Homo sapiens: one gene and its partners. The protein of the gene in region 2 purifies or fractionates together with the protein of the main gene of each other region. This does not show direct contact. Each region holds a gene or a part of one and is shown on either strand. Other genes may lie near its edges. The genes, in order: RTL6, BATF3, ARK2N and ZBTB10.

Evidence for each region.
Region 1: the proteins of BATF3 (region 2) and RTL6 purify together in Homo sapiens (affinity purification with mass spectrometry; 2 studies listed by BioGRID and IntAct, with this or other methods). This does not show direct contact.
Region 3: the proteins of BATF3 (region 2) and ARK2N purify together in Homo sapiens (affinity purification with mass spectrometry; 2 studies listed by BioGRID and IntAct, with this or other methods). This does not show direct contact.
Region 4: the proteins of BATF3 (region 2) and ZBTB10 purify together in Homo sapiens (affinity purification with mass spectrometry; 2 studies listed by BioGRID and IntAct, with this or other methods). This does not show direct contact.

Annotation. Positions count from the first base shown.
Region 1 is NC_000022.11:44,495,211-44,502,521, reverse strand, and holds the start of RTL6 (retrotransposon Gag-like protein 6), read left to right. Parts: upstream 1-4,288; 5' UTR 4,289-4,478; intron 4,479-4,710; 5' UTR 4,711-4,965; coding exon 4,966-5,685; 3' UTR 5,686-7,311.
Region 2 is NC_000001.11:212,696,832-212,703,687, reverse strand, and holds the start of BATF3 (basic leucine zipper transcriptional factor ATF-like 3), read left to right. Parts: upstream 1-3,847; 5' UTR 3,848-3,925; coding exon 3,926-4,015; intron 4,016-6,622; coding exon 6,623-6,727; intron 6,728-6,856. UniProt on the Homo sapiens protein: AP-1 family transcription factor that controls the differentiation of CD8(+) thymic conventional dendritic cells in the immune system.
Region 3 is NC_000018.10:46,240,017-46,247,043, forward strand, and holds part of ARK2N (protein ARK2N), read left to right. Parts: coding exon 1-171; intron 172-7,027. UniProt on the Homo sapiens protein: AMPK substrate important for exercise capacity and skeletal muscle function.
Region 4 is NC_000008.11:80,517,199-80,524,225, forward strand, and holds part of ZBTB10 (zinc finger and BTB domain-containing protein 10), read left to right. Parts: intron 1-1,204; coding exon 1,205-1,381; intron 1,382-1,583; coding exon 1,584-1,756; intron 1,757-2,024; coding exon 2,025-2,330; 3' UTR 2,331-7,027. UniProt on the Homo sapiens protein: May be involved in transcriptional regulation.

The DNA of each region.
Region 1 (7,311 bases), on a different chromosome or scaffold from region 2:
TAAGATGACTATATCTGTGTTCTCCTTTGACCCAGGGCCACACTTTCACATAAACTGTCACACCCCACCCCCATGAAATGACTGAATCCAATTTTTCAGACTTTTTTTCTGACACAGGGGTGACTCCTCTCTCCTCCATCCCCTGGATTCAAATAGGAAGCCTGGCTGTGTTCCCAGCCTTGGGTCCCTATTATGTCTCAGGTCCAGAGCCCGGCAGGCCCACGTCAATACTCAGAAGTTTGTGTTTCTGGACCATTGTGAAGTTTATCTTGTTTATCGATTGGAGCCCACTTATATCCTTTCAATATTTTCTTTGCATATTTTATTGTTCTGTGTTCACAGCCCAGACAGGCACCTCAGGGCATGAATCATAGCTTCATCTGGATGAGAAGCCAAATATTCTTCTCCTGTTTTTACTTTTAAAAGTCCATTAATTTTTATTTTGCTCTATTTTATGGGCTGCCATCTAATTTCCCCTTGGAAGTAAAGTGAAATACAGATAAATTATTTATTTCTTTAAATGTTTTATCATTTCTGAAATTGGGGTGCATCTTATATTCAATGCACCTGGGAATTTAAGATTCATGGTGTCAACCACACTTAGAATTGCAGCAGACACTTCACTAATGTGCCCAGTATCCAGGGGCCTAGACAGACAGAGAGACAGAGAGACAGATGGAGTGACTCCCACGAGTGGATGGGATTCCTCTGTGTGTTTAGAAGAACCTGGAGGGGTAGAAGGCTGCAGGCTCATTTCTGCTTTTGAAGTCATTGACCTCAGTCAAGGTTAACACAGCTCCTGCCCCCATCTGATTTAGAAGGTCTCATGGAAGAAGTTTAAGGACACACAGTCTTCTTTATTTCCCTCTTGCTTCATGCTCTAGAAGTTTTCACCTGGTCACAAAGGGTGCACACTTTGGCACACTGGGGTACAAGTATCCTTTCCAAGTTCTGACACTGTAGTTGTGGGACCAGCCCAAACTGGGCCTACCCTGTTGGTAACAAAATGTCAAGCTGCCTTTTAGGTAGAACAGAGCCCAAAACTGCAAGTCATGTAGCCTGGGCATGTGCCGTAGAAAAAACTTTGACCTCCAACAACACCCAGAACCAATGATTCGTCCTCTTAGAACCAAGAAGACTGGGACATGACCAGAAGTTGAAAACCAGAACTCATTCACAAGCAAAGGGGTCCATCAGCCTGGAAGGTCTGGGGCTAAAATCTACTTTAATATACATTACCACATATGGTCAAATTTGAAGCCCTCCAATCAGACCCTGGCAAGCCAGCATTGATAAATACTTTCTCTTGCCACCTGATCCCTTAAAACTTGCCCCATACCTCAAATCAGGGAGACGGATTTGAGCCCACCTCCTCTCTCCTTGCTGGTCAGTTTTGCAATAAAGCTTTTCTTTTCTCAAAAGCTGGTGCCATATGTATCGGCTTCCGTGTGCATCAGGCAGCAAGACCACTTGCTCAGTAACAACATCCTTATGCCCTAATTCCCTTGAGTGAAAACTGCAGGTCTGAGTGAATCCAGCTCTGTCCCAGGCCTGCCTAAAGAGTGCAGATGGTTCCCAGCTTCAGCCTCCTTGAATACTGTGTCCTCAAAAGACTGGCATACTGGGTATTGTTAACTGAAGAATGACGAGGTTCATAAACCTGGAAAGGAGAGTTTTATTTATCATAAAAGGTTGCACCCTGCAGAGTGGCCATTTGAATAGGCTGGGAAGTGTAGCCTCTGGCCAGAAGCCATAAACAGGCACTTCAAGGGTTGGAAGAGTAAGACAGGAATTTATGTTGATCAGGGTGGCCAAATATACATATTCAATAAGCTACAGGAGGAGTTATAAATATTTATGAGAAGAGAAATATGCACATGTGCAACTGAGCTTCATCCCCCTTCATGGGTAGCACCTACAAAAAATGGCAGTGTTAGCGTGATCTGAAGGTGGAGTTTTCAGCCCTCTAATGTCAAAAGGTGTATCAGAGGACACAAAAGCTTTCACTGCACATCCTCCACAGGCTGGCCAGAACCACTCCAGGGTTGGTGGTCTCTTACTAGGAAAGAATGCTGGTCAGTTGTTGTGTGCCACAAAAAGGGAGGGGCAGTGTCAGATGGTTGGTTGGTATCAATGTTGAAGTCTTTCAAAGAGGCTTGTTTCTGTTTAACTCTTAAGGAAAAAAGCCTAATGGTGGTTATCGGTTATGGAGCGGGGGCAGATAATGAAGTGTGTCCAACCTCCCATCCCATCATGGCCAGGAACTCGGCTTCCCAGGTTTCTCTGGGGTCCCCTGGCCAAGAGGGGGTCTGTTCAGTTGGTTGGGGGGGGGGGGCTTAAATTTTTATTTTTATTTCTCAGTATCTTTTCTCTCCAGCCATGCCAGCTTGAAACTGACCATGCAGAAGGATCACCTAGGTCAAGCTGGGAATCCAGACCCGGAATCAAACAGTTCTTACCCTTTGGCCAGTGTATTAGTCTGTTTTCACGCTGCTGATAAAGACATACCTGAGACTGGGCAATTTACAAAAGAAAGAGGTTTATTGGACTTACAGTTCTGTGTGGTGGGGAGGCTCACAATGACGGCAGAAGGTGAAAGGCACGGAGGAGCAAGTCAGGTCTTACATGGATGGCGGCAGGCAAAGAGAGAACTTGTGCAGGGAAACTTCCCTTTTTTTTTTTTTTAATTTTTTTTTGAGATGGACTTTTGCTCTGTTGCCCAGGCTGGAGTACAGTGGTGCAATGTCTGCTCACTGCAAGCTCCGCCTCCTGGGTTCACGCCATTCTCCTGGCTCAGCCTCCCAAGTAGCTGGGACTACAGGCGCCCACCACCACGCCTGGCTAATTTTTTGTATTTTTAGTAGAGACGGGGTTTCACCATGTTAGCCAGGATGGTCTCGATCTCCTGACCTCGTGATCCACCCGCCTTGGCCTCCCAAAGTGCTGGGAGTACAGACGTGAGCCATTGTGCCCGGCCGGAAACTTCCCTTTTTAAAACCATCAGATCTCTTGAGACTCACTCACTATCACAAGAAGAGTGCAGAAAAGACCTGCCCACATAATTCGATCACCTTCCACCAGGTTCCTCCCACGATGTGGGAATTGTGGGAGTTACGACTCAAGATGAGATTTGGGTGGAGACACAGCCAAACCATATCAGCCAGGTATCTTCACTCCTTGGTATTTACTCTGGGGAACCCAGCAGAGAAAAGGGTGGGGATTTATATACAAGTGTAGTTTATAAAACTTTAGCATGGTAAACAAGATAAGGATCTATCAAAAAGGGCATGGCTAAATACTTTGCGGTACAGGAGTTCCATGGACCACAGGCAATAACTGAAAATCATGCTTCTGAACTATCTTTAATAGGAAAATGCTCAAAATTCAATGTGCTGTTATGGTTACAAAATATTCATAAGGTAAAAAATATTTTGTAGAACATATCATAGAAAAATGACTGGATGGAAGTACAGAAATATTACTATCTCTACGTTACATATATATGTATTACTATTTGCTATCTTTAGGTGGAGGGAGTCTGAGTAGTATAAAGTTTTTTTTACTTCTCTTACATCAAGATTTGTTACATTAAATTTATATTCAAATCACAATAAGGGCCTGATGCAGTGGCTCACGCCTGTAATCCCAGAACTTTGGGAGGCCAAGGCAGGCGGATGCCCTGAGGTCAGGAGTTGGAGACTGGCCAGGCCAACAAGGTGAAACCCCGTCTCTACTAAAAATACAAAAATTAGCCGGGCATGGTAGCACGCGCCTGTAATCCCAGTTACTTGGGTGGCTGAGGCAGAAGAATCGCTTGAACCCGGGAGGCGGAGGTTGCAGTGACTCAGGATCGCGCCACTGCACTCCAGCCTAGGCGACAGAGCGAGACTCCGTCTCAAAAAAAAAAAAAAATAAGAAGAACAGTAAATCATCAAAAAAATAAACCCAATGACAACCACAGAAAGAGCCTTGCAAGCCCTCTTGGGAGGAATGACTGGGAGAACACCAGGTACCCGCCCTGATGAAGACGCCGCAGCAACTACAGTCTTCCCCGATTGGCAGCAGCCCGAGTTGGGGGGTGGGGGGGGGTGGGACTTTGTGCATCACTTCCGGGGGCGGGGCAGCGGTCGTCTCCGCACGCGCGGGAGCGGTCGGTATCCATGGCAACCAGCGGGGCCAGCCTAAGGCCCGCCCGCCACCGCCACCGCGCCGGCCCCGCCCGCACAAAGGCCGCGCGGTGACCCGCCCTCTGCCGCGACCCCGGCCCCGCCCCTGCCCCGGCCCCGGCCTGGCCCGGTCCCTGCACCTGCCGGAGGCCGCCCGCCGCCATCGCCAGCGCCGTCGCTTGGCTGCGCTGACCGGGAAGCAGTTCTCGGCGGTCCGCGCGGTGATTCATCGGCCTGGCCGCGTCCCCCGCGCGGGCCATCTTGGTCACGGCCGGCGGCGGACAGAGCCGCGGAGGAACCGCGAGACCCCAGGTACGCGTGCCCCCGGCCCCCTGCCCGGCCGGGCCCCGCCACTGTGGTGGCCCCCAGGCCCGCGGCCGCCAAGGAGCAGCCCCCTTTGTTCTCCCCCGGGCGGGCGCGGGGCGGGCGCCGCGGGGCTTTGTGCAGCCTCGCCACCCACGCGCGGGCCCTCCACGCCGCCCCTCACCCTCCTGCCCGCTAGTCGCAACTGAAACCTTGAAAACATCTTTTCTTAATCCTCCAGGGCCCAGAGCAGGTCCAGCCACCCGTCTGGCTCCGTAGTCCGCGAAGTCTGCAGTAAAGGAGCCGCGTGGGACCGGGGCCGAAGTCCCTAGGGCCTGGCACCGCGTGCCCCTCTCTCGGGCCCTCGGCTTGGGGGTCTCGCAGCGCCCTGCCGTCGTGCACCCCACACTGCCCCCATTTCTACAGGGGCCCACCTGGTCACCACACCCTCTTGGTCCACCCGCGGATCTCAGCGTGTGGCTGACCTCTGGCCAGCATGGTGCAGCCGCAGACGTCCAAAGCTGAAAGCCCAGCCTTGGCAGCGTCTCCGAATGCCCAGATGGATGACGTTATTGACACCCTGACCTCCCTGCGCCTCACCAACTCGGCGCTGAGGCGGGAGGCTTCCACCCTGCGGGCGGAGAAGGCCAATCTCACCAACATGCTGGAGAGCGTGATGGCAGAGCTGACCTTGTTACGCACCAGGGCGCGGATCCCGGGGGCTCTGCAGATCACCCCGCCCATCTCCTCAATTACTTCAAACGGGACTCGACCCATGACCACACCTCCAACCTCTCTGCCCGAGCCCTTTTCCGGGGACCCAGGCCGGTTGGCGGGGTTCCTGATGCAGATGGACAGATTCATGATCTTCCAGGCCTCCCGCTTCCCGGGTGAGGCCGAGCGTGTGGCCTTCCTTGTGTCTCGACTGACTGGGGAGGCGGAGAAGTGGGCTATCCCCCACATGCAACCTGACAGCCCCTTGCGCAACAACTATCAGGGGTTCCTGGCAGAGTTGCGGAGAACCTACAAGTCTCCGCTCCGGCATGCGCGGCGCGCCCAAATCAGGAAGACTTCTGCCTCTAATAGGGCTGTGCGAGAGAGGCAGATGCTCTGCCGCCAGCTGGCCTCTGCGGGCACGGGGCCTTGCCCAGTGCATCCAGCTTCCAACGGGACTAGTCCAGCGCCAGCCCTGCCTGCCCGAGCACGGAATCTTTAAGAATCCGCCAGCACTTGGTAGCGTCTGCAGCCACCCAGGTAGCATACGCTCTTTGCTGTGTAGAAGAAATGCCCATACGACAGCTTTGCCCCTGTTTGAAGACCTCCCTTCTTGCCTCTCCAGACGTGTTCCCCGAGGAGATCTTCCTTCCGTCCTTCCTGGCGCCCTGGTTGCCCACCTTGCCGTGCTTCCTCTTACGTGCTAGCTTTGTACCTATCGCTCACTGCATGCTCGCCTCCCTCTTGCTGGCATCCCGGCCTGTTTCAATGACTACCGCTCTGCTACTTAGGCACAGGGACTCCGCCGCACGCTGACGGACCACGAGGGCTGACCCCTTCCAGCCTGACTTGGTTCATGGAGGCTCCTACTCTGCCCTCTCCAAGCTCCCCTGGCGGCTCCCCACCTGGTTGCCCAGTTCCTATTGATGAGCTCTGGACAGAAAGATGCCCGTTTGGCCAGGCTGGTGGCTTGATGGGTGTACCTGGAGAGGGGGTCTGGCTTCCTGCCCAAGATGCCTCCCAGCCCTGCCAGGGCCCGGTGCAGCGGGCAGGGCCTCATCTGTGCTGTAGTGGTCGAGTGGTTGCTGCAAGGAGCGTAGTTCTGCCATGTCTGGGGGCCAGGTTCCACTCTGCACATGAATATGCAGTCTGGGAGGCCCCACTGCTCTCACTGGGAAGGACCAATGTTGCACCTCTGTTAATGCCTGACTTCAGCTGCTGGTGTTCTGATGGAGCCAGAGGCTTGGGGAATCTGGAACTTGCCTGCTAAATAAGGTCGTGGTGGACTCTCAGCCATTGGGCAGGTCTATCAGGCTGCAGGTTCCTACACACCCACGCCTGAGGGTCATAGCAGGCTAAGGGTGGATACCAGCGACTCCCTTTGCTGCCCAGGATCTCCATGGGCAGTGCCACAGCGGCTGATGCTCAGTCACTCCTGCTTCTACCCCCTGTCACTGATGGCGAGCCTTGCCCAGCTTGAGACCTGTTCCCATCTCTATTCAGGTGCCATGTGGCCTTCACTGCAGCCCTGCAGCCACCCACGCACCATCTGTGGGTCTCCAAAGGCACCTTGTAGCATGTACTCCCCGTGCCTGGGCAATCAGATGGGCTGCCTTTGTCCAAGGGAAAACAGACTCCCTTCGGGAAACATCCTTAAGCACTTAAGGCCGGGGGGGGTGTCTGCCTCTGGCAACCCAGCCAGGGTCTTGGTGGCATTTGTAAAAGCAAAGAGCTGTGGACTGCCGTGGTCCTAGTGTGGTGACAATGCAGCACTGGCATGCATGTCCTCCTTCTGAAGGACCTCATCCTTCCTCACAGGGGGATGACCAAGAAATCATTTTGTGGCTGAGTTTGGCCACGCCCTTTGGACTGTGCTGTTCCGCCATATTTCAATGCCAAATGAACCACATTGACATGACCTGGACCATAGGGCTTCCTATCCTGGGCTCAGCTGCCCCTGTCTGAAGGGTCTTGGCTTGATTGCAGAAGGACAACCTCCGCACCCACCTAAAGACATGTATATGTCTTGGGATCCCAGAGATTGGGTCCTTGGGCCTGGCTTCTTAAGAGTTTTGATGATGCTGGGAAAAGTGACTGCGATTCTGAAGAACCGCTGCCTTGCAAGGTC
Region 2 (6,856 bases):
TGCTAGAACTGGAGTGATGCGTTTTTATAAAGGGTTGTCTTTTGTGAAGTGAATCACCAGAGGATTTGGTCACTGAGCTATAAACCTCTTGCACCTCCTACCCCCTCCCCAAAGATGTAATCCAGGGTAATTGTGGTATTAATCGGAAATTGCCAAATCATATAATTTCTCTTCCCAGTTCAAGGAAAATAATACAAATAAAAAGAAAATAAAAGGCTGAAGAAAAGGAGACATTTGAAATGCTTCTTCTTGTTTATCTTTTCTTTACTTTCATTTTTCTTTCTCCTTCTGACTAAAGAGAATAAAACAAACGAGAAGATATTACAGAAAAGCAAGGAAAAGTCTGTTATTAGAGCAAACCACTTGATCAGAGAAGTGCTGGCATTCTGGTGAGGCCAGTGAGCTTAGTGCCATACAAATATATTTATATCACTTATACATATGAAATGTTTTAAGATGCTAACATAATAAAAACCATTTTTCAACAAGTACAGGTAAAAGAAATTATAATGCCACCATTATAAGAGAAAGGCTACCATCAGGGTACGTTTTCTTCCAATCTTTTCTCATATGCATACATTCGTACATACTGTTCATGTCATATATGTACTTTTTGTATCCTGATTTTTCTCACTCTACTTCAGATCAAATAAACATTCCAAGTGGCAAATTTGTCTGCATGTTTGTAATTTTTTTTTTAAGAGACAGGGTATCACTCTGTTGCTCAGACTGGAACTCAGTGGTGCAATCATGGCTCACTGCAGCCTTGCACTCCTAGGCTCAAATGATCCTCCCACTTCAGCCTCTAGAGTAGCTGGGACTACAGGTGAGAGCCACTGCATCCAGCCTGCATGCTTGTAATTTTAAAGATGCATAACATTCTATCCTGTGGCAATAACATATTCTGTTTAGCCATTCAACTATAATCGGACATTTATGTTGCTTACATTTTTCACTCTTAAAATGTTATTATGAACTTCTAGTGCATATAGTATTTTTCTCCCTAGTATTTTCAATGATGTTTCTAGGATGATTTTCTAGCAGTAGGAAAATTGAGTCAAAAGTGATGACTCTTTTATGGTTCTTGAAAGTGACAGTAAAACTGCTTTCCAGCAGGTTTGTGCCAATTTACAATGAAGCCAGTGAAACATGTGAGTACCAATTTCACCATACTCTCCCCAGCATTTGATATTACTTTTTATTTTGCTAACTTAAAAAGGGTTCTTATTTTAATATATATTTTCCTATACCTATTTTCCTTGATTATTTCTTCTGCTGGGAAATGCCATTTCATATCCCTTCTGCAATTTACCTTTGCGGGTTGTCTCAATATTCTTCTTCTTCTTTTTCGTGGGCTGTATATTAACCCTTTCTCATATGCACTGTATTTATCCAATCTGTTTGTTTTACATTCCTGGTTATACTGTCATCTAAAACAATTTAGCCCTTTTATATAGTTCAGATCTTATCAAGTCAATTTCTCCTATTACATGTATTCTTATAAGATCCTTTCCTTATCTTATCTCCACAACTTTATTTTATTTATTTGAGATAAGGTCTTGCTCTGTTGCCCTGGAGGCTGGAGTGCAGTGGTGCAATCATAGCTCATTGCAGCCTCAAACTCCTGAGCTTAAGTGATCCTCCTGCCTCAGCGTCCTGAGTAGCTGGGACTACAGGTGTGCACCACCACACTCAGCTAGTTGATTTCTTTTAATTTTTGGTAGAGTTGGGGGTCTCACTATGTTGCCTATGCTTCCATGACTTAAATAAGAATTTAATTCTGCTTTAGCTCTCTGATTTTCATTTCTGTATCTAGCTATTTAATCCATTCATTTTGATGTATGATCTTTACATCAAATTGATCTCTGCCCTAAATGCTACCTAGTTAACCAAGACTAAATGTATTTGAAGAAACCCTTGCGTAACACAAGACAGTAGACTATGCCTATATAAAGAGTTCGTGTGTGCTGGGACATGGTTTCAGGCTCCCTGGGGAGAGACAGGGAAGCAGCAGCCCCAAAGGACTTAAAATGTGATGTGGTTCAGTGAGAAAAGTGGGCATGACCAGAATAAAGTGTAGGAGTGCACGGGAATGTTCCCGAGGTGTTTCTACCTTGCCTTTTCTGTGCATAAAAAACACTGGGGAATGAAATCACTTCTGAAAATGATAACCCCTTGACCCAGATGTTTTCCTAGCTCGTTAGAGCCCTTTTAGTGCTTCAGGAATGAGAGCTTTCAGCTGACCTAGTGCAATACATATACTGAGCACCTGTTGAGTGTATGTAGCGTGCTATGCTAGGCACCTTGTGTGGGTACCTTGTGGGATGCAAAATAGTCCTGGGGCAACCACCAGTTAAGCTGAGTGATGAAATAACGGAGAGGAAAAGATTAATCCGGGCAGATAACCCAGCGTAGCGCTGGCTCTGCTGCGCAGCCTTGCTGCTGTGGAGTGTGGCGCTGCAACTCTAAAGGGCTGCGTCCACCCTCCGTCTTCCTCCCCGCCTCTCAGTTGGCCGAAGCTTCTGATCACACAGACAAGAATCTCCGCTCGCTTTCCCGCTGGCCTCCAGGCAGCCAAGTTCACTCAAGCTCTCTCAAAGCTTTTGCAAGAGTGGGTCTTAAATCCTGGCGGGGGGCACGTGCACTCATTTAAGACTTAAAAAGGAATCGGAAATGACTGTCCCCATGCCCACTGCTGCCCACAAACCTGAAGACCCAAGCGACCACACTTGGTAGGCACTTCTGCCCTTCTGGTCTGGTTCCCACCCGCCCATCCCGAATCGCGGTTATCTTTCCCGGTGCTCACAGCATGCAGACCACAGCCTGTGGCCGCTAGTGTTTCCTTCGCTAGGACCACGGGTAATTGTCTTGGCTTCGCATCTTTTGACTGGCAGGCAGGTGGACAGGGACTTGCCCTACCTCAACCCGGTCCCCAGCTTGGCACGAGCAGATAAATCTTGAAAAAGAAAAATGATCTGGGCCGTTTAACCGTGGCATGGCGGGTCCAGATCCCCAAACCTGTCACTAGTGACGTCCCACGTGGCAGATTCGCTCTCAGGGAAGCCCGTCACCGTTTTTGTCCGGGACATCCTCCCCATGCCCACCCTCCGCTCCGGGAATTCACCCTCGGGGCCGCCCCGCCTCGTTCCCTCCCACAGCCCGGCGGACCCGAGACGGGAAGGGCAGGCACTCCCTGCAGAGTCCCTGGGGCGCCCGTGGCTCGGGGTGCGCGGTGGGACTCGGTGAAGCCGGCGTCTTCACCCCAGAGCCGCGGCTTCGGGGCCGCTGGAGGAGCGAGAGTGGCGCCCGGATGACTGATCGCCGCGGAGAAAGTCCCCCGGGACTGTGACCCCCGCGCCGGGGGGCGGACGCAGGGCGTGGCTGAGGCGCAGGAAGATGCCGCGATGGGACCGGGAAAAAACACCGACCCCAAAACACCCACTGTGTTTCTCAACCTGAGTTCCCCGGCAGCCGCCGAAGGACCCCAAAGGCTGCATGGCGCCCCCCTGGTCCCCACCCCCCCGGGCGTCGCCTCGCGTGGGTGGGCTTCGCGTTCCCTCCGGGGTTTCAGAGCCACCACGTGACTTCCACGAAGCGCGGGGCGCCGGCGGAAAGCCGCGGCAGGGGTGGGATTTGGGACCCCGAGGTGCGGAGAGAGGGCGGGCAGAGGAGGAAACGAGGCGGGGGTGGGAGAAGGAGGGCGGGGCAGACGTGGGACGGGAAGGACGGCTGCCGGGACTGGCGCGCGGGGACACTGGGCCGACGCGTGGAGTAGCGGGGAGAGCGGGAAGCCTGAGGGGGCGGGGCCGGCGCGAGGCCGTGGGTGCGGCACGAGGATGCCGGCGGCGGGACAGCGCCCGTAGGCAGCCCCACGGGCAGGGCGCGCGGGCGGGGCGGGGCGGGCCGGGCCAGAGGAGCGCCCGGCATGTCGCAAGGGCTCCCGGCCGCCGGCAGCGTCCTGCAGAGGAGCGTCGCGGCGCCCGGGAACCAGCCGCAGCCGCAGCCGCAGCAGCAGGTAGAGGGCGAGAGGCTCAGGGAGGGCCGTGGGGTGCGGGGACCGGCGCGCCGCGGGGGGCGAGGAGGTGGGTGCTGGAGTTCCGTGGTGGTGACTGCGGAGGTGCAGAGGTGGCGGGTGCGGCCGGAGACAAGCAGAGGTAGGGGCGTAGGGATGTTGGGGAATGGGGGCGATCCAGGGACCCTGTCGTGCGCACAGTGTCCGCGGCTCCTGGAATGGCTCCTGAGCCAGCTCCTGCGCCCTCTGGGGGAAGAAGCCCGAGGGCGCCGACGCCTGGCTGGGCCGGGCATGGCCGGTGCTCCCCGGCACGTGGGCTCCGCACTGCCCTGAGGGCCGCCCCATCCTGGCGCAGCCAGCGACTGCCACCCCACCACCCGCGCCTGTAGCCCCTCCAGGATTCCCCCGGGTGGGGGGGGTGCTGCCGCGGGAATGGAGAACGCCGGACTAGTCAGCCTGGGCGGAGGGAACCCACAAAGGGCCGACTCCGCCCCCAGCTGGTGGAAACCCTTTGCCCCTTCCCAGTTCGCTGTCCCCTAGCAACGTTTACAGCGGCGCAGTCAGGAAGGAGACCAGGTTGGCCACAGGGACGGCCGTCTGGAAACTTTGCCTGGGTCTTGGCCACCTGCCTTACGACGAAGACTGGGTCTTTTCATCCTTACTCCCCACCTTCCCAATTCAGCGCCCGGCCCATGTCATCAGGTGTCGCTGGAGTGTCACAGAGATCTGAGTTTGGGCCTGGGCTTTGCCACACACAGGCTGAGCAGCCTTGAGCAATTTGTTTAACCTCTCGGACCGTCCATTTCCCCATCTGTAAAATGAATATAGTAACATCAACCTCTCAGGATTTTTGAGACTGAATCAGATATGGTTAATAACATAATACTATCTCTAACTTTCGCTCACCTCTTTCTGTCTTGATTAAATGTTTCTGCTGGGTTGGCAGGTGTGATCATGGTGATGAGTCCAGTTTAGAGTCAGCTCCCCGAGGGCAGTATGCAGGCTGCTTTCTTGTGCTAGTGACTTTTTGATTACAGAGAGCAAAGAGGCATGAGAAGCACTATGCAGAATACATTTTTTTTTAAAGTAGCAACTTCAACAAAGGCAGGTAACTTCTTGAGGGCATACTGTATGCTGGGAGCTTTAGGACAAAATCTCATTTCATCGCATCCCAATCCTAAGCATTAGGCTGTTAGCACCAAGTCTGCAGAGTTCACTGACCCTTTGTTTAGGGCTTGTATCCCCAGTGTCTAGAACAGTGTCTGGCACATGGTAGGTGCTCAGTTAATACATATTGAAAGAATGAATGAATTATGCTTACAATAAATGAGAAAACTGAAAATTTAGAGAATTTAAACCATTTACACAAGACCATGTTGACACTAAGAGACAAAACTAGGATCTGTGTGATTCTAAAGCTAAAGAGCTGTCTTCTAACCACATGTTCCCCTGTAATGTTCTGGTTTTGTTTATCAAGACTTCTTTGCCTCTCTAGAAGACTGTATTATCATACTTTGTTCCCTTAAGCTTCTATTTGCTATGTATGTTATTTATTCCTCTCCTTTTTATGCCTTTATATTCTTGCATATCTGAAACTTCTTACCTGCAGTAACTTGGGAAGATGTGTGTCTTATGTGGAATACAAGATGAGATCAAATGATAACTGAAAATATCCTTTTTTGTGTTATTAATATTTGCATTCCGTGAATATTAATAACTGAGTAGTTTTCCTTGTTTGTACCTCTTGGCTCTTAAACTCTGTAAGTGTGGTATTTTTCCCGCTTGGTGGTGTCTTCTCATGGGGTTCTAGAAAGCAAATACTGCTCTCCTTTTTCATGTTTTCTATAGCTGATTGAAGTGTTTTTACCATGGTCAGTGCATTTTTCCGCCTGCCTGTTTCATGATCACTATTGAGGGATTTGACTGAATTTGGTTAAATCTTACATATAGCTAACAGCTTTCAAGACACATAAAAAATTTGCTGACTTCTGAAACAAAATGTCAGCCAAGCATTGTTCAAATGAGTACACTGTCAGTGGGGTTTAAGATCATTTGGTGTGTTGGTAGAGTTATGTGGCTGCAATTAGTTGTAAGTGTAATCATGATTTGCATGCAGTATCAAAAGTACCTTTCATGTGTGGTGGTATAAGGACTGGCAAACAGCAAGTTCCAGATAGCAGATCTCTCCACCGCCCCCCACCCCCACCCAGCTTTCCAGTCTCAGATGGACGACATTGACACCACAGCTCTTCCAGGCACACGCCCTGTGGGCTAGAGGTTTATGAACGTTGATTTGGAGACCAACAGACCTGAGTTCCACTTCCCACTCACCCACTTAGTGGCTGTAATACCTGGAGCAAGGTCCTTAACCTCTCTGAGTTTCTTATTCCTCATCTTTTAAACGGCGGTCACACCACACACTTCACACACTCACATGGTGAGTGCTCCTGGGCAAGGGGCTGTTGTGAGCCCATTGGTATAGCAACTAGTGGTGCTGTCTACTGCAAAGCAAATGATGAAGCTCAGTGAACAACGCTGAGTGATGAGACAGGGCAGAAAAGGGTAAGGCGAGGGGCCACGACATCACACCCACCCAGTGTTTTTCCCCAGAGCCCTGAGGATGATGACAGGAAGGTCCGAAGGAGAGAAAAAAACCGAGTTGCTGCTCAGAGAAGTCGGAAGAAGCAGACCCAGAAGGCTGACAAGCTCCATGAGGTGAGACCGTGGTAGGGGCAAGCCACCTTAGAGCCACACAGCCTCTGCCTTGCACGGGAGTGGGGGTGATGACTGTTCTCTTTATCACGATTTCAGCAACACTCATATCTAATTTCTGCCAGGTCCTTC
Region 3 (7,027 bases), on a different chromosome or scaffold from region 2:
TTGTAGCTCATTATGATATGTCTGACACCAACTCTGACCCAGAAGTGGTAAATGTGGACAATTTATTGGCGGCTGCAGTAGTTCAAGAGCACAGTAATTCTGTAGGCGGCCAGGACACAGGAGCTACCTGGAGGACCAGCGGGCTTCTAGAGGAGCTGAATGCAGAGGCAGGTTGGTCTTCCCCATCCCCCTTCTCTAACGGTGTAATATGCATGTGTCCTGGAGCTGTTTTCCTTGTAGTGGACCCTGATGAGGAGAACAGGTCATACCAGAGACATCTGGCATTGAATGATTGGTTGTGACTATCCAGGCTGCCATTTATACCTGAAACAATTTGGATAGCTTGTCATTCATCTTTCCTACTCAGAAGGAAGTAGAAATAAGAGCATTTAAGACATTAATTGTAGGTATTGGTAGGTTTCAGTAGGCATATTTCTTGGATTAAAAATGCCCAATATTTGCAAAAATGACCCAGATATGCTCATATTCTTTGGCCAGTTCTTTCTCTCACTTTAATTCTGGGTAGTGACCTTGCAGCTTGGATAGGGAATCGTTGAATCTCTCCCTGTGGGGCTGGCTGTTCATACACAGCGCTGCCGCTGTTTCTTGTGCTTCTTGCTGTGGAGTGACCCTGTTAATTCCTCGTCAGTAAGTTCTCATTTGTCTTTTCTAACTCCTTTCTTTTAGTTTCTGTCTCTGTTAGCTCAGGAAAAAAAATCTCTGTCCCTGTCTTACATTTTTTTAGTTTTGTGATTATTCTTTAAGGTGGTATTTATTCACTAAAAAATCCACTGCTGTTACCTTTGAAAAACTTTCACAATACCTCCAAGTCTTCTTCAATATTTTCTTCAAAAGTTTCTTTCAGCATTCTAATTTAAACCTTGTTTTGTTGTTGTTGTGAAAATACTAGCACTGAACATTTAAGAAGAGAAGGGGATTGAGAGACTGCTTATGCAGTGTATAATTTCTTCAGTGTTGCTGAAAGATTATAGTTTTCTAGTTAATTTATAAATGCATTGGTTTTATGAGTTAATCTAATAGTTTAATCACTACCTAAAGTTATTTTTATGAAAAATGAGTTTTACAAAAAAATGAGTTATAGTTTAGAACTTTTTATATTGAGACAGAACTCCATTGATTGTTGTTGTCTTAAATTATTCCTTTCATAATCTTTGATTGGAATTACAGAAAAATCACTTGTTTGTTGACCTGATTGATTTACTGTAGCTAATTTTGGAACTGAACCTGAATTTAGTTTTGATTTTTTTTGACTGGTAACTGCTGCCTGTTTGTCCTTGGACCAGTTGTTTCTCCTCTGGACTTCAGTTTTTATATGTATAAATCCTTGTTTTGCCCAACAAGTGTCTTTTAAGGATTTATTAATATGTATTAATACAAATACTTTGAAAAGAAGTAATAATGCTTCTGGGCACAGTGGCTCACGTCTGTAAGCCCAGCACTTTGGGAGGCCGACGTGGGAGGATCACTTGAGGTCAGGAGTTCAAGACCAGCCTGATCAGCATGGTGAAACCCCGTCTCTATTAACAATACAAAAATTAGCTGGGCGTGATGGGTGTGGTGGTGGGCGTGGTGGTGGGCGCCTGTAATCTCAGCTGTGGAATTGCTTGAACCTGGGAGGCAGAGGTTGCAGTGAGCTAAGATTGTGCCACTGCACTCCAGCCTGGGTGACAAAACTAGACTGTATCCCCCCAAAAAAGAAAAAAGAAGTAATAATGCTTTATATCAGTGGAAAGTAGTTTGGCCACATTTTGTACAATATGTGTTTCTAAGTTATTTATTTATTTATTTATTTATTTGAGATGGAGTTTCGCTCTTGTTGCCCAAGCCAGAGTGCAATGGCGCGATCTCAGCTCACTGCAACCTCCGCCTCCTGGGTTCAAGCGATTCTCCTGCCTCAGGCTCCTGAGTAGCTGGGATTACAGGCGCGCACCACCACGCCTGGCTAATTTTTTGTAGAAATGGGGTTTTACCATGTTAGCCAGGCTGCTCTGGAACTCCTGACCTCAGATGATCCGCCTGCCTTGGCCTCCCAAAGTGCTGGGATTACAGGCGTGAACCACTGCACCCAGCCTTGTAATTTGTATATTAGATGGTTTATCTTTGTTTTTCATCCTTTGGCAATTAAGTCATCCATTCCACTTCAGTTTTATTTCTCTGTTTTCTGAGTCTTGCCGTTAAATATAGACCATTTTATGGTAAAGTTTTGGGGTAAAAAATGAATGATTACCAACGTTTTGCTCTTCATATGCAGAATTCTTAATATTAGATTGAACCGTATGGAATTGTTAATATTTGACTTTTTGACCTACAAAAAATCAGCCATTTCTTATGACTTGACCGAATAATGCAAAGTTTGCGGTTTTAAAATATCATTAAAGTTTAGCTTTTGGGATGGCATTCACATTTTCAGATTCAAGTAATTGTTAGCCTATTTAAAAATCACTCTTAAGAAACTACAACCATTCTTTTTAAGAAATAAAACGTGGTAAAAGTATGTGAGGAGGAAAACAACTGTGGCTTCAGATGTTTTCCTTCCCTTTGCCCTTCCCATGCCAAAGCTATCCTAAATTGGATATTTAATGTGTGGTATTCCTGTGTATTTCTTTATATATTTGTACTACATTTGTTATATATCTAAATAAGCATGTTTTTAAAACTAATTGGTATCACATTGAAGGTAATCATTTGAAATGTGCTTTTTTAGTTAAACATTTTATGAGTTTTGTTGTTGTTATGTGTGGCTCTAGTTCATTCATTTTCCACTGCTATTTAGTATTCCACTATATGAATATATCACAATTTACCCATTCTCTTGTTGGACATTTAGGGTGCTATTTTAAGTGATACTGCTCTTAACATTTCTTTATGTGTTTTTTGGTATATGTATATGATAATTTCTCTAGGATATAATTAATATATAGAGAGAGCATTTGTGCATATTGGACTATAAATTTTGTGTAGGTTTCTGTATATCATAGGATGCAGTCACCACTGCTCAGCAGATCCCCATGACATTTTGTTATGAAGCTTATTGGCTCTTTCAAAGGCATTTTTTTTTCTTAAATCTGACAATACTGGTATGTGGGTAATAAATAAAAATAATACTGTAGTCTTGATGTGATTATCATAGTGGAACTCATCTTGTGAAGATATCTGAATGTGCTTACAGTGTCTCAATAAAATATTAATAGAATTTATGCTTAGGAGCCAGTTAATAGTTTTGAGGCTTGGACTATTAGTCAGATGGTCATTCTTATGGTGTGAGTGTAAGTTAAAATTTTAATGGTTAATCTGGGTCCTGTCTTTCCCTTTCACAACAAAATAGCAAGCCTAGTTATTGAGCAGACTATTCAGGGGTTCACTTTAATCAACAGCAGCATCTCAACCCAGGTCCACAGCCCCATCCCATTTAGGATCACATAGGTACGCACTAAAGATAGAGTAGGTTGCCTTTTTCCAAGCAATTAGATGATTATCTTGCATCCAAAATATATATTTAGTTTTAGTTTTAACCTAGGCAAAAGACTTGAACCACATGCAGGGATTAAAAAGTAAGTCGAAATTAGAGAAGCTACTGATCAACAAAAGACCTGAATTTTCCATTTCAATTCTTGCCATGTGTTTGCTTTTTTTAAGTTGATGCTGGAATTGAACACTGTAGTGGGTGATTTTGAACCAGTGGCCACTTAGAAACTGCATGTCCTCAGGTAAATTATATAAAGCCTCAGTTTTCCCTATCTACAAAACTGGGGCACAACCTTTATAGTATCTACTCCAAAAGGTTATTGTTACCACTAAGTGAAATACAGTGTGTTTACTACGGAGGACAGCACATAGTAGGCCCTCAGAAATGCTAACCAGCATTATGTTAATATGCTGAAGTAGACTGAGTAAGGAAGTGATTAGTGGCTCAGTCACTGGATTTCTAATTACTCTCTTGCACTGCAACGAGTTGCTCTTGCTACAAGTACTTCTTAAATTTTGCCAGAGCGTAGAAATTACCCAGTGTGTTTATAAATATTCACACTCCTAGGTTTCTCCTGATGATTCTGTCAATAAATCTGAAATGGTTTCTGGGAATCTCTTTTTAATAATAGCCTCAGGTAACTCTTGTATCCAGCATGTTTAGGAAACTGTATTAATATATCTGAAAATGGCTTCATTTTTGTTGCTAGTAAGGGCTCACTGCAAACAAATGTAGTTGGGGCAAGAAGAAGCAGAAGTCTTGGTGAGGAAGGCTTATAGCTGTGGTAAACTGAACTTATTTAGGATTTTTTTCCCTGGGAAGTTAAAACTTTAAATACCTTATCTTTTCCATCAGCCTTCTTGTCAAGAAGGTAGGTTCTGAGCATTTTCCCCATCCTTACAATAGGGATGGTAATCTTGATTTGTCCCTAACATGGTGGCAGTACAGAGAAATGAATCCTGGGTTTCCTGTTCCTAGTGTAGGGTTTTTAATAATTAGACCAGAATGGCCATGTTTCAGAATCAGTATAGTGAAGGAGATGAAGTATGGTCATGTTCTTCATGTTTATCTGCATCAAATTGATGGTAAGAGTTTAGATTTTTTTTTTTTTTTTTTTTTAAGAGGGAGTCTCCAGTCACCCAGGCTGGAGTACAATGGCACATTCTGGGCTCACTGCAACCTCTGCCTCCCGGGTTCAAGTAATTTTCGTGCCTCAGCCTCACAAGTAGCTGGGATTACAGGTGTGTGCCACTGCGCCTGGCTAATTTTTGTATTTTTAGTAGAGACAGGGTTTACCATGTTGGCCAGACTGGTCTCGAATTCCTGACCTCCAGTGATCCGCCTGTCTTGGCCTCCCGAAGTGCTAAGATTACAGGCATGAGCCACCACACCCAGCCAGATTTTAGATTTTTGAGCTCTTCCTTCACTCTTTTTTGTTGTTGTTGTTGGAGATGGATTCCAGCTCTGTCGCTCAGGCTGGATGCGGTGGCAGTCTCCGCTCATTGCAGCATCTGCCTCCTCGTTCAAGTGATTCTCCTGCCTCAGCCTATCCAGTAGCTGGGATTACAGGTACCCGTCACCACGCCCCGTTAATTTTTTTATATTTTTAGTAGAGATGGGGTTTCACCATGATGGCCAGGCTGGTCTTGCCCTCCTGATCTCAAGTAATCTGCCCACTTCTGCATCTCAAAGTGCTGGAATTTCAGGCGTGAGCTACCATGTCCAGCCCTCTTCCTTCACTTTTTAAGGTTGTTTAACGTGCTGTTTAAGGAACTAAAAGTAGGCTGGGTGCTGTGGCTCACGCCTATAATCCTGGCATTTTGGGAGTCCGAGGTGGGCAGATCACGAGGTCAGGAGTTCGAGACCAGCCTGTCCAATATGGTGAAACCCCATCTATACTAAAAAAAATACAAAAATTAGCTGGGCACGGTGGCGTGGGCTCCTGTAGTCGCAGCTACTTGGGAGGCTGAGGCAGGAGAATTGCTTGATCCCGGCAGGTGGAGGTTGCAGTGAGCCGAGATTGCACCACCTCTCTCCAGCCTGGGTGACAGAGTGAGACTCTGTCTCAATAAAAAAAAAAAAAAAGAAAGAAAAAAAGAACTAAAAGTAGTAATTTGCTGTTTTTAAAGCTAAATGAGTAGTGACTTATTTTTTTATTTTTTTTATGCCTAGCATGCGACTGTCATACAGTATGTAGTATTACTTTCTCTTCAGTGTGTTGCAAAGCTCAGGCCTAGTTCTTACCCAGTGGATTTACAGTTTAAAAAGTAGCTGGATTATTTCCTTTAAAGACAGAAAGAAACTGTTTTCCATGATAATTTAGTTACTACTTTTTCTGTGCTTCTTTTTCTTACCCTATTTTGATAACTACCTTTTCTTGGTAACTTTTTCTTACCCTTTCTTGTTGAAAAGGTCTGTAGTGGGAGGACAAAATTTAGAATTTTCTCATATAGTGAAAGAAGTTATCTTTCCAAAGACCTACACAGGCAGAGACCTACACAGAGACAGCCAGCTGTCACAATAGCTAAATATAAGTGCTCTGCTTTATTTTCAGTTTAATATATGGTAATTGCGGTATTTACATTTTTCTCTACAGGGCTTGTTCTTGTCTTAGAACTGGAAAAGATTACTACCACTGACAGTATTTGAAGAACCTCATAGCATCTTTGGCTCACTTTTCTGTATGCTTTAGGCACTGTTCTGCCATTGGAATCCTGTGAAGTCCTCCATGGGGGGTGAGGCGGGGTGGGGAGGGGCAGAGCAGAAAAGGCCCAAAGGCCAGAGAATGTCAGGTTCTATACTGGAGCTCCCAAAGGAATGTGTGGGATGCTGAAGAGGGTTACAGTGACAGAAAAGGACTAATGGTCCTGGCTCTGAAATAGAAGAAGGAAGAGGCAGAGGCATCCCAGAATGCCTTTGGTGTCTCTTGTAGAGCACGGCATCTCATTGCCTTGGTGTGGGTCCTAGCTGATTTGTTTTCTGTGTGGCACAATTTATCTAAGGCTCTGACAGGAAATTTGGCAAATGTCTCACACTATTAGTCTAGGAGTTGTTAACATTCACGAGGCAGTCTGTATTTAGCACCCCCATCACTTTCTCATGCCTCTTATCTTGCACTAGTATATTGACCAAGCATTACAGATAAGAGCAGACCCTAGGCTAGGCGCGGAGGCTCACACCTGTAATCCCAGCACTTTGGGAGGCCGAGGCGGGTAGATTACCTGAGGTCAGGAGTTCGAGACCAGCCTTACCAACATGGCCAAACCCCGTCTCTACTAAAATACAAAATTAGCCTGGCGTGGTGGTGCATGCCTGTAATCCCACCTACTCAGGAGGCTGAGGTGGGAGAATCGCTTGAACCCGGGAGGTGGAGGTTGCAGTGAGCTGAGATCACATCTTTGCACTCCAGCCTGAGCAACAAGAGCAAAACTCCATTTCAAAAAAAAAAAAAAAAATAGCAGACCCCAATTTAAAGTGACCAGTTTTAGCATATCATCTGGGTTTTGTAACCATGTTAAATACCAGCAGGTTTGGATTGCA
Region 4 (7,027 bases), on a different chromosome or scaffold from region 2:
AATCTGTGATTTCTCTGCTGAGAACAGACTCTAGGAAGGCAACAGTGGAAGTAGGGAGACAAGTTTTTGGTGGCTACTGAAGACAGTCCAGGGGCTAGAGCTCATGATTGATTGGATCAGGGTGGCAATAGTTGTGGAAGATTCTGGATATATATTCCTATTGCCAAAAGGTTCCTGGTCCAAGGAATTACATTAAAGATGGAATTAAATCCAGTGGATATAATTCCTGTCCTTGCTAATCTGAAGATCCTTAGGCACATGTATTATTCTATTTTGATTCTATCTTCTGCACGTTATTTTATTTAAGGATGGAGTTAGAAAGAAATTTCAGGGAACCCTGAGAGCATTCAGTTACCTTGCCCTAATATGTCTGAAACAAGGATCTAGTAATAGAACTTTACATTTTTAATTATCCTATATATATTCTTTATTCTTAGTCTATTTTTCTGTACCAATTAATCTTAAAATTATGTGCCTGTCCTGGATTCGTAATAAGGAGAATATCCCATTTGATAGCTGGGCTTTAGGGTGATAAAATCTTAAGTGATAGAGTAGTTAGAAAAAGCAACTATTAGGAGTTCTGGTTTGAATATACCCATCCTTTAAAAGGGTAATTTCTTGTGGCGTCTGCACAATTAAATGATATTCATGTTTTTTTCTCCCGCCCGCCACCTTTTTTTTTTTTTTTTTTTTTTTTTGAGACATGATCCCACTGTGTCGCCCTGGCTGGAGTGCAGTGGCGCAATCTTGAATCACTGCAACTCCCGGGCTCAAATGATCTTCCCCAGTAGCTGGGACTGCAGGCACACACCACCATGCCCAGCTAATTTTTAAAATTTTTTTGTAGAGATGGAGATGGAGTTTCTCCATGTTGCCCAGGCTGGTTGCAAACTCCTGGGCTCAAGTGATCCTTCTGCCTCAGCCTCGCAAAGTGCTGGGATTATATGCATGAGCCACTGTGCCTGGCCCATGATTAATTTTTTTAACTGAATTTCTTCTACTATAGTTGAATGGTATTTTGTTTAATTGTGATAATAAAGTAGGAAGACATCTCAATTTTAGACTAAAATACAGTTTTATTTAACTCATACTATGAAATTCTATCATAATGCCTGTAGGATATAAATATAATTTCTGTTTTCTGACTCTGATGAGAGACAGATCTTTATTACCATTATTAATTCAGAATTTTTACTTGTACTAGGTACTTCACATGATTTCAAGTATGGTTTGATGCCTGGTCCTTCAAATGATTTCAAGTATGGATTGATACCAGGTACTTCAAATGATTTCAAGTATGGATTGATACCAGGTGCTTCAAATGATTTCAAGTATGGATTATTGCCAGAATCTTGGCCAAAACAAGAAACCTGGGAAAATGGCAAGTATTAGTCAACTAAACAAATACAGAATTAATTAAATAATTGTTAACAATTAAAAGCTTTCATGTTCTGCATTTTTTAAAAACCAAGTAGCAGTAGCTCCACATAATTGCTGTTCTCAGAGATAGAGATAAGAAGTTTTGATAGCAAGTTTTCTGTTTAATGTGTAATAAGCACTTTCTCTTTTTTTAATTCTCATAGGTGAATCATCTCTAATCATGAACAAGTTAAAATGCCCTCATTGTAGCTATGTAGCCAAATACAGACGAACACTAAAAAGGCACTTGCTCATTCACACAGGAGTGAGATCATTTAGCTGTGATATTTGTGGAAAACTGTTTACTCGAAGAGAACATGTAAAAAGACATTCCCTGGTAAGTAACTTTAAATACAGCTGATCTTTGAGATAAACTATATTTATGTCAGTGAAGTTTAAAGGGATTTAAACAGTTAATTGTGAATTTAAGGAAGATTGTCTCCTAAATTGCTTTAAACAGTTTGACTTTATGAACTGATAGTGAGCTTTTTACAGAGAAACTGGTGTATTCACTCACTATTAAATGTGTGGTTTAATTTGAGTGGTTCAAATGCATTCTATTATATATAATATCCTTATATTGGATTTTTTCCCCCTCCAATTAGGTGCATAAAAAGGATAAAAAATACAAATGTATGGTGTGTAAGAAGATCTTCATGTTAGCAGCCAGTGTTGGAATAAGACATGGATCTCGACGTTATGGTGTTTGTGTAGACTGTGCAGATAAATCACAGCCAGGAGGGCAAGAAGGTGTAGATCAGGGACAGGATACAGAATTCCCTCGGGATGAAGAATACGAGGAGAATGAAGTAGGAGAAGCTGATGAAGAGCTAGTTGATGATGGAGAAGATCAGAATGATCCCTCTCGATGGGATGAATCAGGAGAAGTTTGTATGTCTCTAGATGATTAACTGACCTACTATACTCCTCAAGGATGCTGCATTTGGACCTAATATGAATCGACAATTTGGATTGTTGAACTTGAAGGCTTGCAAAATATGGTACATGCTGGATAGTAGTTATGTTGCTGTGAAAACTGTAGGGTCAAAGCCTTATAGCAAAAAAAATTTTTTTTTATATTTGCACAGGACTATACAGCAAACAACCATGTGGTTGGATTACATGGAGTCCCCACATACTCAGTCAGTTATCAAAGTAAAATATTTTTTATTTATAGGATATACAGTAACTATTTGGGTCCTATGAAAATAGTCCTTAAAGAGCTTACATTCATGTGCTACTTTAACATGAATGGAGAAAATCCGTTTATGGAAGTACAGTGACAATTGACCCAATCACTCTGTCCATCAAACCACTCAGGCTAGTTTGTACTAGTAGAGTTTTGTTTCTATTTTTATTTTTATTAATTTTATTTTTTTTAATACAGATTTTCAGTGAGGGGCTTTTTCAACCCCATTGGTTCTATTTTCTTGTATTTTTCCATTTAATTTGCTTCATAACTTAAACCAAGTCTCTTCTAGTCTTAGGTATTATTTCTCGATTTTGTGCTGATGGGCATGTTTATAAGAACTGGAGAGGTAATTTATTGGAATGAACTAACTGACTTCCTCCATTCCCCTCTTCCTTTTTGACATGAATTTTACTACTTCACAAATGAAGAATGATGTTATGAAGTTACCGTGGCGAAGTTGACAAATACCACTAAAATGATTATGATTTAGAAGTAACTTTCTTCTGCTGCTCTAATCTGATAAATGGTTACTATATGATATTTTCTGACATGGTATTTGGTTTTGGGTATCTGTTACTTTGGCACTATTCTTGTTTGCCTCTTTATTTTTGCCAGTGTACTATACCTCAGTCCTATTTGAAAGACCTAATTGAAAGAAAAATCATAGAAATAAGTAAAATGATTTGTTTTATAATTTATCCACCATGTCCAGTTTGGTTAGCTTGTTATGCAATATAAGTGAAATATCAGGTTTTTACCCGTGTCCCTTTTATCATGAAAATTAACACAAAATGTGCATTCTCTTTTGTTTCATACTTAGCGGGATATTGATTGTTTTGAAATTATGATCAATACTTAATTTATTTTTTTCTGTCCTTGAAGTCACTACACCTTGATACAGTCTTTCTAGTAGTCACCATGATTCAACAGTCTCAAAAATCTTACAAATAAAATTCTGAGAAGCTTTATTATTCTATAAATTCTTCAGGGTACAAAGGGTGACATATTGAGGTGAAATTGTCAGATTTACTTAGCCTGGTGACATGAATTAGCTGATTGTGGAACTCTCAGCAGCATTTCACGTATTGTTAACATGTATGGCATTTATTAGCATATTGTATATTATATAAGATTGAGGGATGTCATATTTTCAGCTTTCTTTTAAATAAAAATTGAGTATATTTTCCTATTTTATATCAGGTAACTAAATTATGCTAGTTATGTGGAAAAAATTGCAAAGATGCTTTGACAGATATAATCCCTTTGGTGCTCCATCTGATCAAAGTTGAAAAGTTGATGTTTTTTAAGAGACAAGCTTTATCATTGTCTCTGATTTCAGTAGAATAATGGTTTATTGTTAGACAATGATGTTTCTGCTTGGATAAATCAAAGATAAATTACAGTTACATGGTTAGATGCATCTTTTGTCATCTATATTGTAGTTTCTACATAACTGTAAACCTGACAGATAAGAATAGTTTCGGTTTGATTTTTGTTTAAAACAGATGAGTACTTCTTAATGTTCTAGACAAATGAGTAAAATGTATTTCTGGTAGAAATTAGTTGGGCAAAGATACTATGAATGAAAAAGTATTTTAAACGTAAAATGTTCTTTGTGAATATGTAAGTATAGTATAAAGATTTCTTTCATCCCATTTATCCCCTTCCTTTAAATAAACTAGTTTACAATTGGTAGATCTGTCTATATATAAATATATATTAAAGAACAAAGATATATATCTAAAAATCACCTAAATCTGCTTTATTAGACTACAGTTCACTTATTGCATAGAAACTGGACTTGGCTTTACATTCTTAATGTACTTTTACTTTTCCTCAAGATATGAACTTACTCTCTTGAAGCTGAATTTTCTTTTACTACTTAAATCATTTATGTATATCTGGTAAATTATGACCAAATTTTTGTTAGATTGCATACAGTAAATTGAAATACACACTTGGTACACTACGGGATTGTTGTGCTTTTGTTTGGTTTTAGTTGGAAATAAGGTTTGATGTAGATGGCTTGTTACTGTTAATTTAAAATATTCTATAATTGTCCATTACTTTATGTTGTGTTGTGACAGATTTGGCTATATTTTTAGTCAATTGAAATATGATACTTTAAAAGTTTGTTTTTAGGTAATCCAAAGGAAAAGTGTTTATACTCTTGAATATATTAGCCTCAGCCTATATAAAAATTTCTTTGAAGTAAACATTTTACCGGAAACAGAATTGACAGATTTTTCTACTTGCTGACTGCCTAACTTATTTTGTTTCATGATCTCGAGGGACTGCCTTTTCCCATCTAGATCTTTTAAAAAAATAGTTTTAGTACTAAGGTATACTACTGGACATTTCTATTTTTTTAAGTGTATTCTTTTTCTGACTTACAGTAAAATTTCAGGAAGTTGATAGATACTAAGAACTTATGATTGGTCTCAGAGGTAACAATGAAATACTCATAATTTTGTCTGTGGAACTCTGGCAGAATTATGTTACACATTTGGCGAAGTTGTCTCTTGTAATTTATATTTTAAATGAAAAAGTATTTTAGAGCTTTTAATGAAGGGGAAGAGTATAAACTTTCTTTCATATTCACTCTGTAGTTACAGACCGTCTCATAAATCAAGATTGTGCATTATTAGAGTTCTCAGAGACAGATACTTCCATATGGACCCCTGTTCATTTTTCTTATTTACTAGATATTTTGCTAAATTTAGCACACTAGCAATTAAGAGTTTAAAAAAGAAGAAACGTTATAGGAAAGGGAAACTGAACAGTAATGAGTAGCTTTGAAATTGGGGAAAACACACTAGCTGGGTTAGGTACAGCTATCCTAATGGAGAAGAGTGAGCTAAATGCGTTAATTCATGTAAAGTGCTTAGAACACTGGTACATAATAGGTGCATAACACATCTTAAAGTTGTTTAATAATAGATAAGAACCAAGAGGAAAAAGAAATAAGAAAAGATGGGGGAAAGGAAGGAGAAAATAGGAAATGAAAGGATTAGGACTTGGGCATTTATATTAATACAAAATGGTGTAAACGGCCTGAATATCACTGTAGTAGTATCATACGGGGGAAAGTGTGATGGAAAATAGGTTTAAAAATCTTAATTTTTAAAACTTTAGTAAGCTTTATTTATATTTTTTAGGATTTTCTGAACATAGCATGAAGGGTTTAGATTCATTTTTCTGAAAAACGATTAAAAAAACTACCAATTTTTTTTTTGAGTGCCCACACTTGCCGTTGTGCTGTATACATGATTTTACCTTAATCCTCTATAAGGTAGGTGCTAATTGTCTCCATTTTATAGATGAGGAAAGGCTCAGAGAAATTCAGAAACTTGGCTAATTTAACACAGCTGTGACAGAGCTCGAATTTGACCACGTCTGATTCTGAAGCCCATACTCTTTCAGGGAGGCTCTATTGCTGCCTCATTAAACAACTCTTGTAGAATTTCAGCTCTTAATGGAGTCTATGGATTATATTTTTCCTATAAGACAGCTGTGTTTAGAATTTTGAGTGTCTTTCCTCCCCCCAATAAATTTCCTTACTACTCTTTCTTCATAAAGCAGTTGTTTTGTCACTTTGACTATATTAAGACACATCAGTGTAGCACATGCTCTTAACTGGCTGTGGCATTTTAATTTTATAAAAGAATGGTTTTTATCTGAAGAACTAGATAGAAACCCCAGTTTTTGTGCCGTTCAGTCACCCAGATCCTTAAACTTAACTATGGTACATAATATCCACACTTAGAACTAACAGGTGTTTAGTCACTTTAGGACTTAAAATGGAAAGTTTTTTTTTTTTTCCTGCTGTATCTCTGCTTTCAACTGAAGTTAAAGAATTCTAGATAGTTTAAAATGTGTTAGGGATAAGCACACTTCAAAAGATGTTTTCTAGCCCTAAATTTTATGACATTGGGTACTTAAATTTGGAGTACACTAGCTATTGAGAACAATATTTTGGGTTGAGGAGAGATGGTTGAGGCCATTATTTAGTGGGAGCATTGGCATTTTGAACACTGTAAACAAAAGAACACTTCCGCCTGCTGTTTGTAAAAGCTCTTTGGGAAGATCTTTTACGAAGACCAACTTTTTAAAATGTAAATTACCTACCTAATATAAGTGTCCTAAGACATGTATGTAAACTTCCGGAACTGTTTTGTCTGTGTATTTAGAAAATACACAAGAATCTTTATTCAAACCTAAAAATATAAACTTGTGAGCACTAAACTGCTTCTGGCTTTGTGAATTTTATTGACTGACATTTAATTCAGATTTCTTTGCAAGTGTACTAATTTAGACTAATTGGGGTAAGGGGAACACCTTAATGAACTTTGACTTATGTATAATTCAGATATCTTTGTACTTAAGGCTTACAAGTTTGAATTATGGAATACTATA